2 separate regions of the Homo sapiens genome follow, and region 2 is linked to region 1. The links come from fine-mapping of genetic effects on gene expression. Tissue or cell type: whole blood. Region 1 holds a variant in brackets; the other region holds the start of a gene. All regions are shown on one strand. Distances are from middle to middle.

Region 1 (2,921 bases):
GTTTCCATGCCTATGAGAAATTCATTCTACTGCCCTAACACTTGCTTATCAGCTAGTTACTGAAGCTGACCACATGTTGAGACCACACAGCATGTGTCAAGCACCATGCTGAGTATATGACATCCATCACCCATTTCGTAAAAACACATTGTATTCCACTACCCCAGTGTACTGGGAGACAGCAATGAACCCATTTTAAAACATTTCCCATGGAACTTACAAAGGAGGGGATATCTGTGTACATCCATTTAACATTTTCTACCTCCCAGAAAGCTCAAGTAGCACCTTACTGAGGGTCAAACAAAGCTGAAAAAAAGAGAAAGACTCTGCAGGAGGCTTCTCCTAGGCAGAATATTGGTGTTGCTACCCCAGAACAAAGGCTTTCTGCTCCAAGCCAGCCAGAATCTCCTGGTGAGAAAAGGGCAGGATCCAACTCCAATAGCAAGCCTTTATATCATATCCAAATGCATGTAAAAAAAAAACTCTTGGTTCTTATTCCATATCACAGGTGAAAATAATGGGCCAACTCTCATGCATAGGCGGACTGATGTAGTCAGTTTATGTATCTCCATCTTTATATCTGTCATCAGAGCTGCCAAACAATAAATGAGACATTTGAGGAAATAATCAGCTCTGTCACTGGATTTTTTAGCATAATCTGAACAATCATACTTAGGAGATATTTCAGGGTAGGATTGAAGAGCTCAGCTTTTGGAATTAGGCACATATGGGTTCTAATCTTCCATCTTACTATCTGTAATTTACTAGCTAAGTTGTTTGGATGGATCGGTTCAAACTCCCTTAGCCTCAGTTTCCTCCTCTGCCAAATGGCGATGAAGACACCTGCCTCACAGAGTGGTTGGGAATATTAAATGGGATCATGCACGTAAAACACCTAACGTAGTGCCTGGTTCGTGAAAACTGCTAAAAGACTGTTTCACTTGGTATAAATGGACTTAAGAATGTTGTATTTTTTCATTATTATGATCTTTATTGTTATTGTTTTGTGGTAGTAGAAAGAATCCCTATAGTGGATAGAAAGCTGAGCAGAAGTTTTGGAAATGACAAAAACAAACAAAAAAGAACAAAAATTAAGATCACAAAAGCTAAACCGTCAACAAGAAACCCAAAACATAAAACAGAATCAAGTAGAACTGCTCCAGTTGATTCCTCACTTGATTCTCCACCCCTTTTCCTCCATCTCTCCCCTTTTTTATTATTATTGGTAGAGGTAGTATTATCAATAGAATTTCACTACTGCTACTACCACCACCACCACCACTAGCCTGGTGGCTTCTTCATACAAAGTCAGCATGGTGCAGTGGGAACAGGTAGATCTGGTTCAAATCCAGACCATGCCTCTCACTATCCTTGTGACATCAGGCAGAACAGGAGGCTAACTAAGAGGCAGGGAAGGCCAGGTTGAGGCCTTCACTCATTGGCATAAAAATAAGAGAAGAAGGTGTATGGAGGGGATCATGGCAGAGAGGAGTCAGGACTAGATTGCAGCTCCAGACAGAGCAGCATCCAGAGGCTTGCATTGTGAATTTTAGCTCCAAATTGACTGCAAGAACAAACCAACATTCCCAAGAGGACCCACAAAACCTCTCAAGGAAGTGGACTGCTCCTGCAGGACCCAGAAGACACCCCAAATGCTGTGAGTGGCAAGAGGGAGAGGGATAACAGACTACAAATATGGTGCAGTGTATATTGCTTGGGTGA[C/T]GGGTGCACCAAAATTTCACAAGTCACCACTAAAGAACTTACTCATGTAATGAAATACCAATACCTTATGGAAAAATAAAATAAAAAATAGGGGAAGAAGAAATTGCATAACTCTGTTATGCAGTTTAACAATTTTGTGGTAACAAGATGATCACTTAACAACAGCTTCTTCAACCCTTATGTTGTAACATTCTAGGATGTTTGTCTGTTTCTTGAAAGGGAGGGTAGGGTCACTCCAATTCTGGGAAAGTTTTTGAAGCCGAAGAACAAGTTGTATTATGTCAAGACTGAGTTATAGCTTCCCAGTGTCACACAGGAAGTTTGTATCAACACCAGGATAAGGACTTGGGCCTCCTAAATGCAAGGCACCACAAACCAGTGGGCTTAATGCTGAGACATTACCTAGGCTTCTGTCGGGCTGTATGCTCCCCATTTCATAATGAAAGCACACAAAAAATTAGCATTTTTGATGACTGTGAAGTGCCTTGCACTGTTTTAAGCACTTTGTTTGTATAAGCACTCATTTAATATATCATCCTTAACTGACAGATAAGCAAATTGAGACATAGTCCAGATAAATGTCTTTGTCAGGGTCAACTGATGCCAATTAACTATTAGCTTTCATGTAATTCAGTATTTATACTATATTGTTTCTTTCCTCAACTCTGCTATACATGGTCTTCTACTTATTACTTCCCAGATTTATCATTTACATTTTTGCTCTTCTTTTAGGTTAAGAATTTAAAGATCCATCTGCAGAGCTGTTCTTTTACAATTTCCAGCTCAAATGGGCCCTCCTCTGTAAAGCCTTCTCTGATTGCTTCTAGGAAGAACAACCCTCCACTCCCCACCACCCTGCATTTTGGCATAACATTGTGTGTGTGTGTGTGTGTGTGTGTGTGTGTGTGTGTGTGTGTGTATTGACATGCCTCTCTTGCCAAAATGAATCTGAACTCCGTAACTTTGAGGGCACTTCTTGGTCATTTACTTCTGCAGCTTCATGTGCCTTTTCAACCACAGAGTAGCTTCTTCATAAATATTAGATGGCCAGATGAGTAAAATAAAGAACACTCTCAAGGAGAAAAAAGAAAGTGAGAACTTTATTTCCGTGTACTGAACTGCCAACAAAACTGAGAGGTAGATATTATCCCCATTTTAAGCCGAGACAAACAAGACAGATACCATAAGACAGGATCAGA
Region 2 (2,921 bases), 22 kb after region 1:
GAAAGCTGTTCTAATGGCAATGGAGAGTTATTAAAAGTTTTTAAGGAGAGTAATTTGTTAGATTGAAGCCTAAGGAAAAATAATAACAACAAATGCAAGTACATAACAAACAAGAACGTGCAGAATGAATTAAAGGAAGAAGACTGGAATCAGGAAAGCAGTTAGTGTGTAAGAGTCAATGCCAGGGGAAATGAGGGCCTGCCTTACAGTGGAACTAAGGGGATGGGCAGGGATGGACAGGCTTCAGGGACTGACAGGAAAAGGTACATGGGGAAAAGAAGTCAAGTTTGGCTGTGGTTTTATCTCGCAGTGAGCCTAATTAGAAAATCTATCTCCATTAACCTAACAGCAGAGGGATACAGAGAAGAGGACAAGGAGGAGGACTATGGGCAGGGAATTGAGGGAAGGGATGGCTTCAAGATAATGAATTAGTCTTTGCTAAATATTACTTGATTTTCTCCTATATCCTCAACTTCAGGACTGCAGCTGGCTTTTTCTCTCTTGAGTTTCTGACCCTGCCTCACTGTAAATCATTTTCTTAGCTGTTCGGCTCTACTATGGGTTTCTAAAGCAACTGTGAAGTCTGCGCAGGGGAAAAACAAAAGAGATCCATCATGAATAAGATTACCAACCAGCTGATTGGTATTTCACTAAGAAAGAAACTGTTGCATTAGCTGACATTATACATATTTCCCTCTTGCTTTTTTCTTCTCTCTCTCTCTCTTTTCCTTTTTCATTCTCTTATTTTTTTCATCCTCTGGACTAAACTATATTACTGCATACAGAAGTCTGACACCCACTTAGAAAGTTCTTTCTCTAGAGACACACACACAAAAGCCATCTTTTTCCTGAGATTGAAAGGAGCAGGGTGACTGCTTGAAGCTGAGTGTAAAGACCACCAGTGGGAAGAAATGACACTGAAGCAGTCTGCTTACTCTCTAGTGAAGAAGGTATTATAATTCTCTTACAGATGCGAAAACTAGTCTCAGACAGGTTTGATAATTTCTTCACAGAGCCACAAGGTAGCAGAGCAGGGACCTTAAGCAGATCTATGTTATCTCATGCCCCTGTTAGCACTCAAAATTTCCAAATGGAACAAACCCCCAATGGCTGCCTCTAGTGCCCTGTAACAATGAATTATTTGATCTCTGTGGCTTCTTGAGTCTTTAAGGTAATTTAACTCTTTTTTTTTTTTGCAAAAATAAACAAACCAGGGCACACAGTGAGAAGTTCTGGGCAGAAGTGAGGGAAAGTTCAGAGGAGCTGACTCCAGCCACATACCTCCACGCAGGGCTCCCAGCTTTCTGGTCTCACGCAGGAGAGGAAGGCCATGGCTGGGATCAGAGTCCCAGCCAGGCGCGAGGCAGACATCATCCTGGCATCATCCTCACTGCTTCTGTGAGCAGCAGTGGCCCTGTGAATGCGTGGCTCGCTATCACCGTCTGACCGAGCAGTTTCTGAGGCACTGGTGTCTTCTCTTCCTCGAGCCGCCCCACAGCAATTGGTGTATTCAAAGCAGTTCTGGGCTAAAGGGTGAGAGGAAGTGAAAGCGGCAACCTTAGCATTCTGGACTTTTGTTTCTCTAATAGTTATCTCTTTTGTCACAGGAGAGGAAGTTAGAAGAAGAAAACGCCTGCAGACCAGTGGCTAAAGAAACAGCAAGAGGAAGCTAGTTGGCTTTTATCCCAATTAGTCATCTGACCTCTGCCTGGGCTTGGTGAATTTAGGAAAACAATCAGGTTCTATTAAAATAGCCCTTGTAACTCTCTAGGATGACGGTGATTTTCCAATTTTGTTTCAGCTGTGGAAACACTATTTGTATTAGTTTGCTGGGGCTGCCATAAGGAAATACCACAGACTGGGTGGCTTAAACAACAGACATTCATTTTCTCACAATTCTAGAGGCTTCCAGTCTGAACTCAAGGTGTCAGCAAGTGTGTCTGAATTCTAATCTCCCCTTCTTATAAGGACACCAGTTATGTTGGATTAGGGCCCACCATAATGACCTCATTCTACCTTACATACCTCTTTCAAGGCTCTCTCTCCATATACAGTCATAGTCTGAGGTAGAGGGGTTAGGACTTCGATATGTAGGTTTTTGCAGGACACAATTTGGCCCGCCCCTTCTTGTGAAGAAACTCACATACAAAACTGAAAATAAACCTCAACTGAAACACAGTTTGAAAAGTACAAGAAGATTGGGAAAAGTCTGGGATTTCAGAATGGAATATACTGAAGTTCAGATCTCAGCTGGGTGACTCATGGCTTTGAGGCATTGGTCAAGTCATGTAAACCGCTAAGCTTTACTTTCTTTCTTTTCTTTTTTCATTTTCTGTATTATGGTAAAATCACATAACATAACATGACATAACATAAAATTTATTATCTTGACCATTTGTATGTGTACAATTTAGTGGCATTAATTATGTTCATATTTTTGTACAATCATCACCACTATTCATTAATAAATAACTCCCCATTTCCCCTTTCCCTAGGCCCTTGAATCTATGCACTACTTTTGTCTCTATAATCTTGACTACTCTAGGCAGCTCTTAGAAGTGGAATCATACAGTATGTATCTTTTTGTCACTGGCTTATTTCACTTTGCATAATGTCCTCAAGGTTCTTTTCTGTGTAGTATAGATCAAAGCCTCCTTCCTTTTTAAAGCTGAACAATATTCCATTGTATGTATAGACCACATTTTGCTTATCCATTTGTCTGTTCATGGACACTTGCATTGTTGCCACACGTTAGCTATTGTGAATAATGCTGCCATAAACATGGTTGTACAAATATCTCTTAAAGTCTCTGTTTTCAATTCTTTTGGATACGTACTCAGAAGTGAGATTGCTGGATCATGTGGTAAATCTATTTTTAATTTTTTGAGCACCCACCATATGATTCTCCACAGCATCTGTAC

The links. PIP is the estimated chance that this variant, and not a neighbour inherited with it, causes the effect.
Region 2: TLR4 starts here. The variant in region 1 is fine-mapped to the expression of TLR4 in whole blood (TOPMed, PIP above 0.99).

The regions. Positions count from the first base shown.
Region 1 is chr9:117,724,610-117,727,530 of GRCh38, reverse strand. It overlaps TLR4 (toll like receptor 4), which reads right to left. Exons shown (of 3, transcript NM_138554.5): 3 at 2,796-2,921. Among named protein-coding and RNA genes, the nearest start is that of TLR4, 22 kb to the right of the region's middle. The variant C/T (reference allele first, on the strand shown) is at 1,723.
Region 2 is chr9:117,702,926-117,705,846 of GRCh38, reverse strand. TLR4 (toll like receptor 4) reads right to left here and starts at 1,444. Exons shown (of 3, transcript NM_138554.5): 1 at 1,282-1,444. The coding sequence starts at 1,374. RefSeq lists enhancers at 1-758, 874-1,374, 1,345-1,414, 1,425-1,474, 1,375-1,875 and 1 more.